Regions from separate parts of the Homo sapiens genome. Here regions 2 and 3 are each reported to be linked to region 1. The links are microRNA targets in miRTarBase. Many come from high-throughput screens and were not tested one by one. Region 1 holds a microRNA gene; each other region holds the end of a gene's coding sequence.

Region 1 (4,211 bases):
TGAGCCACCATGCCTGGCTGTTGTACTTTCAGAGCCCAAGGTAAGCAGCAGGAAAAGCCCAGGGGGCTCCAAACCATAGTCCAGAGGTTGTGGGACATGGCCCCCACATCCCTAGGGTGGGTACCCAGAGCCAGCTGAGTTCTTCCTCAGCCCTTTGCTCAGGGCCCCCGATGTGCTGGAATAAGGGTAACAGATTCCTCAGTCTAATGGCCTGGCTCATCTTGCCAGGCCCTGCCTCCTGCTCAGCTGCCTTGAGTCCTTACTGGGACATGCTGCTTTTTCCACCCAGGGCCTCCCCTACAGAAACCCCCTAATCCACTGTTCTCTTCAGGGTTTGAATCAGGCTACACAGAGATAGGCCGTTCATGTGTGGGCGAGGGTCCCTAATCATCCCCAGGAGCCAGCACCAGACCAGGCTCTGCCAGCCTTCACATGGCTCTGAAGTGCTGTTAGGTGATAACGTACAGTGAGGGGTGTGTGGGCAGAGGAGGGTTTTATTCTGGACATGGGTGGCTGGGTGGTCAGTCCCCCAGCAAGATAGAGGCCTCACGCACATGCTGCCGGACCACTCGATCTAAGAGGGTGTGCACATCTCGGGCAGCCTGGGCAGCAGCCTCCAACACCCGCTCCAGGTGGTCCTCGTGCAGCCGGGCATCCATCTCAAGCAGCGCAATCTGTCCTGAGGCTGGCAGCAGGGCCAGGGCCAGCTGGGGGCCACCAGCTGCTTCCTCCACATGGCTGAGGTCCGCCAGGGCTGTGCCGTCCACGAAGCCAGCTGAGCACGCACACACAAAGTCTCTCATGGGTATCCCGGCATCCAGCACTGCCAGCGTGGCTGCATTCACACAAGCTGCATAGGTCCCACCATCTGCCTGTAGCACCTGCAGGGAACCCAGGGTGTCAGTCTATCAGACTCCCTCCCCAACCCCATCACACCCTTCCCTCCCTGGATTGACGGCTGCAGCTGGCTCACCTGCACATAGATATCAATCTGGGAGCGTGGGTGCAGCTGTGTGAGGATGGCTGCTTCGAAAGTCTGGCGGAGCTGCAGGCCCATCTCACAGGACTTACGGTCCCCATGTGGCCGTCGCTTGCGCTCACCTGTGCTGAAGGTCGCTGAACTATATTGACAGTTCACTAGGGCCCTGTCCGGCAGGGCTCGAGCCCGGGAGCCCCGGATCTGGAAGAGGACAGACACATGAGCCAGGCCCACTCCTTCCAGCTCACACTCCACTGTCCTCTGTGGGTCTGCCTCTCCCTCCACTTTCAATGCCTCAGCAAGGGGCAACTGCGTTACCTCCAAAACAAAGCCCCCTGTTTTGCGCTCTCTGTCTTGCATGTGTCGCCCTCTGGCACCTTTTAATTGGCTTCCTTGTGTCCATCCTTGCCCCATTCCCTGCCAACCCAAGTTTACAAACATCAACGCTGCTTCTGTCTCACCTACACACTCAAATCCTAACTACCTTACAAAGGTTTCACATTACATATGAAATAAGATCCCAAATCATTTCCCTACTCTACAAAACCCTAAGTCCTCACCTCCCCGGGAACCCTCAACCTGATTTGGAGTTATCCCCTCTTTCCCCACCAGCAGTCTTTCTGCTCTGCATAAGTGCCTTGCTTGTTTTCACCACCGTGGTCTTCGCCCTTCTGGTTCCCTCCGCCTGGAAAGCAGAGCTCCCACACTCATGCGCTAAGCAAACACTCTTTCAATACCTTCGCTGGCCAGGCAGTTACAGCGCTGGAAGCACAGTAATGAAACCAGATAGTTTTATGTAAAGTTCCTTTCTTTAGGAAGCTTATGTTCCAGCGAGGAAACAAAGGGGAAAATGCTTAAGCAAAATAGGCATTTGAGATTGTAGGTGCACAAAACAAAGGGTTTATTGTAGGGCGAGAAGTACCGCGTGGATAATAAGGTCGTCTGGGAAGGAGTGACGTCGGAGTAGAGCTGAAAGGAGAGGGAGCGAGTGGGGGAGTGCCTAGCACGTTGAAGAGCCGCAAAGAGGAAGGAGGGCGCAGGGACAGAGGCCGATGAGAAAGGCAGGACCACCGCGCAGCACACTAAGGACTTGCGTTTACTCCGAGTGAGATGCGGTGCTGAGCATCGGCTGTGTAGACTGAGGCGCGCCGGCCGTTGCCCCTCAAGTCCCCGAGCCAGCGCTCAGCCCGGCTGCCCCGCAGCTCCCACGGCCACACGATTCCCCATCCCGCGCGCCCACTCGCCTCGTGCGGGCCGTAGACCACAGCCAGTGCCTTGGTGTTGCCCTGCTCAATGTAGGCCGAGCCGTCAGCCTGCGCGAACACGCCCATCCGCGCCTGGATCTTGCGCAGCTCCCCGGCGCGCCGCCCGTCCACCCGGTAGCCCTGGTCCGACAAGAGCTCCAGCCCCGCCATGCTGCCCGGCCGCCAGGTCCGCTCTCTGCCTACTTCTCTGAGCCGCGGGAGAACTACAGCTCCCGGCGGCTCCGACCGCCCGGAATCTACGGTTTCCGGAGGTCCGCCATCACTTCCGGTTCCGGGGAACTACAGCTCTCCGCGGCCCTGACCTCCGTGGATCTGCGGTTTCCGGCGTTCCGCTGTCACTTCCTGTCCTGGTGAACTGGAGTTCACCGCGGCCCCGACCTCCCCGGATCTACGGTTTCCGGCGGTCCGGCTCTACTTCTGTCTCCGGGGAACTGCGGCGGCGCTATCGGGGAAGCAGCGGCTGGGCCCGCAGCCGTTCCCGGAGCTGTGCCACGGGTGCCAGGAGGTGGGCGCCCGCCGAAGGAGGAATTGCCCAGTCACGCCCTCGTGACCAGTGGTGCCTGCATTCAGCCCTTCCCCGCGCCCCAAGTGTGAAAGTGGAAGGATGAACCCAGTGGGGTGCGACACTGACAGGAGAAGGCATTGAGCGGTCCTAGGAAAGTGACCAGGCTGGTGTCCCAGGATGGTCCACACCTGGCACCTCTCCAGTCCTCTCATGCCCTCCCTTTACACCGAGCTTCCACACTGCAGTCAGGTGGGCCTCCCTTTTCCCTTTGAGGATGCAGATTTCCTCATCCTTTCCAGAGAGGGGTTGTATGTCTGTTTATCTCTTGCCACTTAACCTCAGCGGCTTCAAATAATAAAAATCATTCTATTATTATGTGCTGCAATCTGGGGTTATCTAGGCTCAGCTAGATAGTTTGCACTTAGGATCTCTCCTACAGTTGCTGCCAGATGGTAGCTGGGGCTGCAGCCATCCTAAAGCTTTCTCCCTCACATCTTTGGTGGCTGATGCTGGTGGCGGGCCAGGACCTCATCTGTGCCTGTCAGGCAGCACACCTACATGTGGCTTCTCCATGCAACCAGGGCTTCCTTGCAGTATGGCAACTGGGTTCCAAGGGTAGCCTTCCAGGACAACAAGGTGGACAACATGTGCATGGTATTTTTAGGACCTAACCTCAGAAGTCACATAGTGTCCCTCCTGCCACACTCTGTGGGTCAAGGCAGTCAGACAGATCTGCCCAGGCTTAAGGGATGAGGACAGGGACCCCACCCTTCAGTGGGAGGAGTGTCAATATTAGACTGTAGGAAGAGCAGGCGGGCTAGGGAAATGTGGTCTGCTGCAGGGGCCCAAGTTCAGTTGTCACAGCATCCCCTCCAAGGTGGTTAAGCTCTCCTGAAAGACTGAGGCATGAGAGTGAGTGAGCAAGCCACAACCCTGCTGCTGCAGCTGGTCTGAGGCCATGATGGGTCACCACCCTCTGCCACTTGCCACCCCGGATTCCCCACCCTCTGCTCTACAGCCACTCTGCTTATTGTGGAGCCCTTTTCCCCTTTCAGTCTGAGCTCTTACTGTCCCTGTTCTTACTGAGTCATCGTTTTTTTCGTTTGTTTCTTTGTTTTGTTTTGTTTTTTGAGATGGAGTCTTACTCTGCACCCAGGCTAGAGTGCCGTGGCACAATGTCAGCGCACTGCACCCTCCACCTCCAGGGTTCAAGTGATTCTTCTATCTCAGCCTCCCAAGTAGCTGGGAAGGTGGGATTACAGGCACCTGCCACTATGCCTGGCTAAGGTTTTTTTTTTTTTTTTGGAGATGGAGTCTCACTGTCACCCAGGCTGGAGTGCAGTGGCACAATCTCAGCTCACTGCAACCTCCACCTCCTGGGTTCAAACGATTCTCCTACCTCAGCCTCCCAGGTAGCTGGGATTACAGGCATGCACCACCATGCCCTGCTAACTTTTTTTTT
Region 2 (4,211 bases), not on the chromosome of region 1:
TTTCTACTACGGCACTATCACCTGGTACAACATCTTCCTCGTGTATAATGAGGAAAGGACCTTCTGGCACAAGATCTCGTATTGCCCTTGCCTCGTTCTCTTCTATCCAGTGCTCATCATGGCCATGGCTTCTTCCCTCGGCCTCTACGCTGCTGTGGTCCAGCTCTCGTGGTCCTGGGAAGCATGGTGGCAAGCTGCCCGGGACATGGAGAAAGGCTTCTGTGGCTGGCTCTGCAGCAAGCTGGGTCTGGAGGACTGTTCTCCCTACAGCATTGTGGAGTTGCTTGAATCCGACAATATCTCAAGCACTCTCTCCAACAAGGACCCCATCCAAGAAGTAGAAACCTCCACGGTCTAAACTCCCAACAACTTACTCCCTCCTCTGGCCCCAGTAGCCTATATATCATCTTAAAATTCCAGCAGATTATTTCTTTAAATTACCCCCTACTCTCCGCAGTTCTTCTGGGAAATCAGAGTCCATACTGATCAGTTTTACCATCTTGAGGGTTCCAGGAGGGCATGGAGCAGACAAGCAATTGTGCCAAAGCAGTTCACCCAATGGACAAACTCTTTTTGATTCCCTGCCCTAAAATCACCATTTATTTAGGACAATGGAACTCTGCTGTGTGTCGTTTTGGGAGCCTGGAAGTGTTACTGGTGCCTGGAACTGAGGGGAGTATGTGACTAAATGTGTCAGGGAGAATAAAGAACCTCGGGGTAACCAAATCCACCAAGATAATAGACAGGGATGGAGTGAGACATTTAGGAAGCTGGACTACCACAGTGTAGCAGAAGGTAAAGATTTGTGTGTATCATTTAGATTTAGATTTAGCTGCATAGAATTAAAACCCTAAAATATCAGTGGCTTAAACAAGATAGAAGTGTATTTCTTTCTTGTGCAGAAGAAGTCTGGAGGCAGACCATCCTGGGACCCTGTGAAGTAATCCAGGTCCCAGGCTTCTTCTATTTCTCTACCATTAGTAGGATGTGACCCTTCTCACCCTTATCCCCAACATCCCAGTGCTGATTACATCTTCAGCCATCACATCCATGTTTCTGATAAAATAGAGGAAAGGGCAGAGAAGCACACACCCTTCCTGTTCAAGGAGACTTCCCAGAAGTCCCACTCGATTCTTCTTATATCTCATTGGCAAGACCTCAGTCACATGATGTCATGAGCAAAAGAGGCTGGAAATGTAGTTGTTTGGCTGGGTAGCTATATTCTCAGCTAAATACTGGGTTCACGCTAATTGGCAAGAAAAAGGAAGAATGGTTATTTGGGTTTTGTTTTGTTTTGTTTTGTTTCGCTTTAGAGACGGAGTCTCACTCTGTTGCCGAGGCTGGAGTGCAGTGGCACTATCTCGGCTCACTGCAACCTTCGCCTCCTGGGTTCAAGCAATTCTTGTGCCTTGGCCTCCCCAGTAGCTGGGATTACAGGTGCGTGCCACCATACCCGGCTAATTTTTGTATTTTTTTTTTAGTAGAGATGGGGTTTCACCATGTGCCCAGGCTGGTCTTGAACTCCTGACCTCAGGTGATCCGCCTGCCTCGGCCTCCCAAAATGCTGGGATTGTAGGCAAGAATGGTTATCTTGGTAGGCAAGTCAGAATCTTTGCCTCACAATGATCATTTAAATACATTCAGAACCCCCAAACTGCTAATATGGTTTTATTTATTTATTTATTCATTCATTTGTTTATTCATTTATTTATTTAGGCCTGAATCTTACACAGAGAATTTATATATAGATATTAGCTACATATACTTTGAATATGCTATACATCGATATTAGCACCTCACGTACTTTGCAATTAAGCTTCTGTAATGTCATGTGATTTGTTTTTGGAAAGGAATAGTGGACAGGAGAGTACAATTTATAATAGTAGCATAACTCTTTGTCCTGGTGGTGGAGGTGGGACGAGGTGGTGATATTTAACCTAGATTAAAGACCAGGAAGGGAGGAATTGCATCTGCCAAAGTTTCCTCCAACAGCGATCAGTAGCCCTAAGTACAAAGAAGCCAGATTTAGCCTTCTGTTGTTTGGCAAAACCTCACTCAGAGCTTTACTCCCTCAGACCTTTCTGAGTTTAACCACAGACATGATCTTTGCTGTGCTGAGAAACTTGTGTCTACCTGGCCTGTAGGGAGTGTAAACTAGATTAATACAGATTAACAGACTCTGAACTTAAAAAAAAAAATCACTCCTAAGGGTGTCCTTCTAATTTCAAAATATCAACTCCTAAGAGGTCAGCAGAATTTGGAGATTTGGGTCCTTATAAGAATAGCTGGTGCTCTTTTCTTGTTCATGTCTCAAAACAAAGCTGTTGAGAGAACTGCTGCGATGAATCAAACCAGAGGAGTTTGTCATGCTCCCCACAGAGAGCCCAGGACATTTGCCTGATGTATGGTGCTGAGCTCCACCTTCAGAGGAACTCTCTCTTTTTTTTTTTTTTAAATAACTATTATTAGCTTGACAAGAAAAAAAAAGTGCCCAACAGTTTTAGTGTTAATCTTGGTGCTCTATGGTGCATTAGCAGAGATATGAACAATTAAATGAAGACAAAGAAAATAAAAATAAAGTCTGATTAACTTTTGCTCATTTTGTCTTTGAGGCTCTTCAAAATTGCTTTGAATGCTATGGTTTGCAGAAAAAGGGTGAGCATGATGGCTGTCCTATATGTATGTAATGATTTTAATATGAATCCTTGTGTCTGGACTCTTTCCATGCTTCACTAATTTTGGGGAATTCTATTTAGGTGGACTGTTTTCACAAACCACACTAGAAACTTGCAACCACATTTGTCCCATTTTTCTGGGGTTGGGGAAACCAATGGGAAAAGCCAAAAAGTTGTGATTAGGACACAGGTAAAGTGGCTGTGGTGCCATGGAAGAGTGTGGGATGATGATGAGATCATACCCAAGAGATACCTAGATAAAGTTGACATGGCCTTCATCCTAGTTGGGCTCATCATCTAGTGGAAGAAATAGGCTTGTAAATTAAAACCATTTCAAAGGGGTTCTATAGAGGTATGTAAAAGCCTAGACTAGAGGAAGGAAAAACAGAACCAAACAGAACCAAAGCATCTCATTTTTGCTCTCAGCAAACACCACAGAGACCATCAGAGGAGAAACTGGAGAGTTCAATACCATATTTGAACAATTCTTTTGGCTCATAGTTGCCTAATCATCGTGGTGAATATCAAGGAAGATGACTATATTTTCCAGTTGCTTAGCAGCCATAATGTGCTGAGCTGGATAAACCATGTCTGGCCCATAGGGTGACACTGATGTGTTTCCAAGTCATCTTGTCTATTGACATTAGGTAGCACCCTTCATTTCACTTCACATCCAAGAAGAATAAAACCCATGATTTTCTATAAAACAAGATTCTAAATCTTAAAAATAACCAATTTCAGATGATGTGAAAGTTTCATTCTGCCATTTTGGAATGGCCACCCAGAGCTTAATTTGTGCAGTGTTGAAAAATATTAGTGGACATCTTACTACTCACATCTGTTTGGGATATAAACTTTTTTTTTTGAGATGGAGTTTCGCTCTTGTCGCCCAAGCTGGAGTGCAATGGTGCAATCTCCGCTCACTGTAACCTCCGCTTCCTGGGTTCAAGTGATTCTCCAGCAGCTGGGATTACAGATGCGCCACCACCATGCCTGGCTAATTTTTGTATTTTTAGTAGAGATGAGGTTTCACCATGTTGGCCAGGATGGTCTCGATCTCTTGACCTCAGGTGATCCACCCGCCTCAGCCTCCCAAAGTGCTGGGATTACAGGCATGAGCCACCAAGCCCAGCCAGGACATAAACTTTTATTTCATATCTGTACTCTGTTAATATTCTACTTATTTTCTCAGTTACCCATATAACCATTGTAACAGCTCTCTGTCAGAACACAAAGCCTGTATATTTTAATTTTTATAGTGGTCAGGAAGTCATTACTCATAGTTCACGTTCAAGGTAATACCAAATGCAAACATATTCCAGCAACTTAAATTATAATTACAAAATAAAATTTTTATTTGCCTTTATTAACTACCTGAAGGGGAACACATGGTCTACATTGTAGCAATAGTTCAAAAAAATCTCTGCTGTTTCAGTTATCTATTGCTGCTGTAACATCTAAAACACAATGGCTTAAAATAACAGCTTGGTGTGCACCTATGGTCCCAGCCCCTCGGGAGGCTGAGGTGGAAGGATG
Region 3 (4,000 bases), not on the chromosome of region 1:
CAGGAACCTCCAGAAGGCCAGTGTGGCTCAGCAGAGGGAGCAAGAGTGGAGGTGGAAAGCAAGATACAGATCACATTCTGCCAATGAGTGATAAAAGAAACCAGAGAAGAGTTTCAAACAGGAAAAAGATGAACTAATTAAAAACACAAAAAGTCACTCTGGCTGCTGTGGGGAGAAGAGTCTACGGAGGGACAAAGGTAGCATGGAGACCAGTTAGGAGGCTACTACAGTACTCCAAGTCAGAGACAGTGGTGGCTTGGGAAGATGATAAGTGGTCAGACCCAGACATATTTTGAAGGTAGAGTCAATAGGATTTGCTATACTTGTAAGCAAGAAAGAGGATTCAAGGATGGCTCCAAGGATTGGGGCCTAAGCAACAGAAGGATGGAGCTGCCACTGATTCAGTTGTGGAATTCCAGAATAAGGGCAGATGGTGGGAATGGGAATCCAGAGTTGCCCTCTGGATATATTCAGTATAGGATGCCTAGTAGACATCAAGAAGGGCTGCTGAGTCATGGTGTTTCTCTTTCCCACCCCCGACGGTGAGGCTGACATTGCTCCCTGCCATCCTTTGCAGGACAAGAAGCTCATCAAGGCCTTCTTTGAGGTGCTAGCCCACCCCCAGAACTACTTCAAGTACACAGAGAAACACAAGGAGATGCTGCCAAAATCCTTCATCAAGCTGCTCCGCTCCAAAGTTTCCAGCTTCCTGAGGCCCTACAAATAGTAACCCTAGGCTCAGAGACCCAATTTTTTAAGCCCCCAGACTCCTTAGCCCTCAGAGCCGGCAGCCCCCTACCCTCAGACAAGGAACTCTCTCCTCTCTTTTTGGAGGGAAAAAAAAAATATCACTACACAAACCAGGCACTCTCCCTTTCTGTCTTTCTAGTTTCCTTTCCTTGTCTCTCTCTGCCTGCCTCTCTACTGTTCCCCCTTTTCTAACACACTACCTAGAAAAGCCATTCAGTACTGGCTCTAGTCCCCGTGAGATGTAAAGAAACAGTACAGCCCCTTCCACTGCCCATTTTACCAGCTCACATTCCCGACCCCATCAGCTTGGAAGGGTGCTAGAGGCCCATCAAGGAAGTGGGTCTGGTGGGAAACGGGGAGGGGAAAGAAGGGCTTCTGCCATTATAGGGTTGTGCCTTGCTAGTCAGGGGCCAAAATGTCCCCTGGCTCTGCTCCCTAGGGTGATTCTAACAGCCCAGGGTCCTGCCAAAGAAGCCTTTGATTTACAGGCTTAATGCCAGCACCAGTCCTCTGGGGCACATGGTTTGAGCTCTGGACTTCCCACATGGCCAGCTTTCTTGTCTATACAGATCCTCTCTTTCTTTCCCTACGTCTGCCTGGGGTCTACTCCATAAGGGTTTACAAATGGCCCACAACACTGAGTTAGTGGACACCGGCTAAATGAGGAAGAGCAGCAGGCATTGTCATGGTGAATGCCCCGCTGTAGCTCCCTGAGAGAAAGACTGTAACTCTGCAGGACAGAAACAAGGTTTTAAAGCATTGCCAAAAAAAAGAAAACAGAAAGAAAAAATGTATCATCTAAAGGACTAGACACAGAACAATTGGAAGTCAACTTCAAACACTAATCCCTTTTCTTGTCTTCCCTGGCCCAGCCACCTCCTCAGCCCCATGTGATGCTCCCTGGGGGAGCCCTACTCCCCTTGCTACATGTTGTCCTTAAACATGGTTATTGACCTGAAGCCAGCCTAGGCCTTGCCCTACAGTTGTTTTTCCCTTGTAGCCCCAGCTGGCTTGTGGGCTTCACCAAAGAGGACCCCACTCTGAAGCCAGCCTGGAGCCACCTACCTCTGGCCTCAGGCTGTGGGCAGCAAAAGGAATGTGTGTGCACTTGGCGAGCCTCCTGCCCACCCTGTCCACACCTAATAAGTGCAATCATTTTGAGTCTTTCTATGTTGTCTAGACGGAGGGGTTTTTGTTTTCTGGGTTTGTTTTTTGTTTTTGTTTCTTCTTCCTCTATTAGCAAAACCCTATTTATAGCTGCCCAAGAGAAAAGAGTGTATGTTTGGAGTGGAAGAAAATCGGTTTTGAATCTCATGAACCTTGAGTGCTGGAGCATCTGATCTGTCTCTATGCCACCACTGGCCACCTAGAGCCCTTGGCTGTGGTAATCCAGGGTAATTGCGCAGAGGCATCTGATGTGTAGGAAAGTAATTCTGGGGATTTGATGGAGCAGAAAGGAGAGAGACCTATGTTTGCTAAACCAATCTTGCTATCCCTATGCCTCTCCATGGAGTCAGTGTGGACCTCATGATTATAGAGGCCAATGGAACTGGTCAGTGATTCTCTACCCCAAGTAGGGAAAACCTCCATCTTTTCCCTGTCTTCATCCTGTTATCCCCTGGTGTACACATGGAAGAGGACCAGGACATACCACCTGGGGATGGGCTGACTCAGGGTCCCGAGGCCAGAGACAAAGCTGTGGGAGCCAAGAATAAGACAGAAGGCATCAGATATTTGCCTGGCTCTGGTCACTTCCCTTTGAAGTTGACTTCAAGCTTAGCTTCCTCAACTACTGTTTTTCAGAAGGAAGAAAGAATCAAATGGAAGAAGAATCAAGTCCATGCCCAAGCCCAAAGCCTGCACACATTCTGCCCTTAATCCAAGTGTTGCCTATAAAATTATTTTCTGTTTTCTCACTCTAGTTCCCCCAAAGCTGTAGTCCCAATCAATCAAAGGCTACCAACTGAGTCCTCAGGTTCATTTCTTTTTTTTTTTTTTTTCTTTTTAACTCTCCTGGTAACTCACAGAACAGCTCAGGTTCATTTCTAGGTGACTGTCCTAGGCTACTGCTCCCCCAGGAGACTCAACACTAAATAAAGGAGTCTGACTCCCTGCCCTCCCATCAGTAGCATTCATCAGCCAAAACGGCCATAGCAGTAGGTAGCCAATGACACAGCTAGATTCCCTGACAACCATTAGCCAACATCATGGTCCTTGTGGGTAGAGTGTCTGGCTACCTTTGTCTTTCTGGGTCAAGGAGGGCCACTGTAAAGATGCAAAATGGCTGCTTCCAAACAAGGGAAATGGTCATTTAGTATGAGTGTCTCTGTACTTCCCAGGAAGCACCATGAAAACTGCTTTAATCAACTCTGACTATCCTAATTCTCCACCAGAAGCTAGGATAACTTTCTTTCTTTCTTTCTTTTTTTTTTTTTTTTTTTTTGAGATGGAGTCTCGCTCTGTCACCCAGGCTGGAGTGTAATGGTGCTATCTCGGCCTACTGCAACCTCCGCCTCCCAGGCTCAAGCAATTCTGCCTCGGCCTCCCAAGTAGCTGGGATTACAGGCATGCGCCACCGCGCCCAGCTAATTTTTGTATTTTTAGTAGAGATGGGGTTTCACCATGTTGCCCGGGCTGGTCTTGAACTCTTGACCTCAGGTGATCCACCCGCCTCAGTCTCCCAAAGTGCTGGGATTACAGGCATGAGCCACCGCGCCCAGCCTAGGATAACTTTCTGATTCCTCTCTGCCAGCCGTTTTGCGTCTCTTGGAAAGCCAAACGGTGACCATGCTTCTTAATTTATGCCTTCAGGGTCTGGCTTCTCCTTTCTCCCTTCCTTTCCTGTCACACCATGCATACATACATACAAATACACATCCTTCAACCATTTATTCCATGGCTTATGAGACCTGCAAATGAGTTCCACAGTACGGAAGGCATAGACCACTAGGCTTCTTAATTGATGTCAAGGCAGATCTTGGTGAGCAGGTAAAAACCTGCTATTGTCCACCAAGTTTAATTTAGGTCCTCCAAGTTGGAGGGTTAAGAACCCAGGCAAAGCTGCTGCTGAATCTATGGAGGAGGCTGGCCCTGGGACATCAAACTAGGGGTTAACTGGATTGAATGAGGAGTCAACGCTCAGGGACATTCTAGGTCTTTACAGGTCAGACAGAAGAGAGGTTTTTACCATTGGAGGGAAATGGAAAGATGGTATAAATAGGATCCCTTCATGAAGCAACCCAGAGGCCTC

What was found. Region 1 holds the annotated microRNA hsa-miR-6847-3p (GGCUCAUGUGUCUGUCCUCUUC, at 1,184-1,205, opposite strand). A microRNA usually pairs through its seed, bases 2 to 8, with sites in the 3' UTR of a target mRNA and lowers its output. Matches are read on the target gene's strand: a 7mer-m8 pairs with bases 2 to 8, a 7mer-A1 pairs with bases 2 to 7 and ends in A, and an 8mer does both.
Region 2: the mRNA of TMEM169 is a reported target of hsa-miR-6847-3p. Seed matches in the 3' UTR shown: 8mer at 1,174-1,181.
Region 3: miRTarBase lists SCUBE3 as a target of hsa-miR-6847-3p. Seed matches in the 3' UTR shown: 7mer-m8 at 3,452-3,458.

What each region holds. Positions count from the first base shown.
Region 1 is chr8:144,076,912-144,081,122 of GRCh38, reverse strand. It overlaps MIR6847 (microRNA 6847), which reads right to left and starts at 1,249; the gene lies at 1,181-1,249. EXOSC4 (exosome component 4) reads right to left here and starts at 2,451. Exons shown (of 3, transcript NM_019037.3): 1 at 2,224-2,451; 2 at 974-1,180; 3 at 475-881. The coding sequence starts at 2,394. The coding sequence ends at 522. It overlaps LOC124902038 (a long non-coding RNA gene), which reads left to right. Exons shown (of 2, transcript XR_007061141.1): 2 at 1-3,124. RefSeq lists enhancers at 2,380-2,679, 2,690-2,739.
Region 2 is chr2:216,100,185-216,104,395 of GRCh38, forward strand. TMEM169 (transmembrane protein 169) reads left to right here. Exons shown (of 3, transcript NM_001142311.2): 3 at 1-2,599. The coding sequence ends at 358. Among named protein-coding and RNA genes, the nearest start is that of XRCC5, 7.1 kb to the right of the region's middle.
Region 3 is chr6:35,247,979-35,251,978 of GRCh38, forward strand. It overlaps SCUBE3 (signal peptide, CUB domain and EGF like domain containing 3), which reads left to right. Exons shown (of 22, transcript NM_152753.4): 22 at 578-4,000. The coding sequence ends at 727. All of the region lies in intron 1 of SCUBE3-AS1 (SCUBE3 antisense RNA 1), which reads right to left. Among named protein-coding and RNA genes, the nearest start is that of SCUBE3-AS1, 9.5 kb to the right of the region's middle. RefSeq lists an enhancer at 1-253.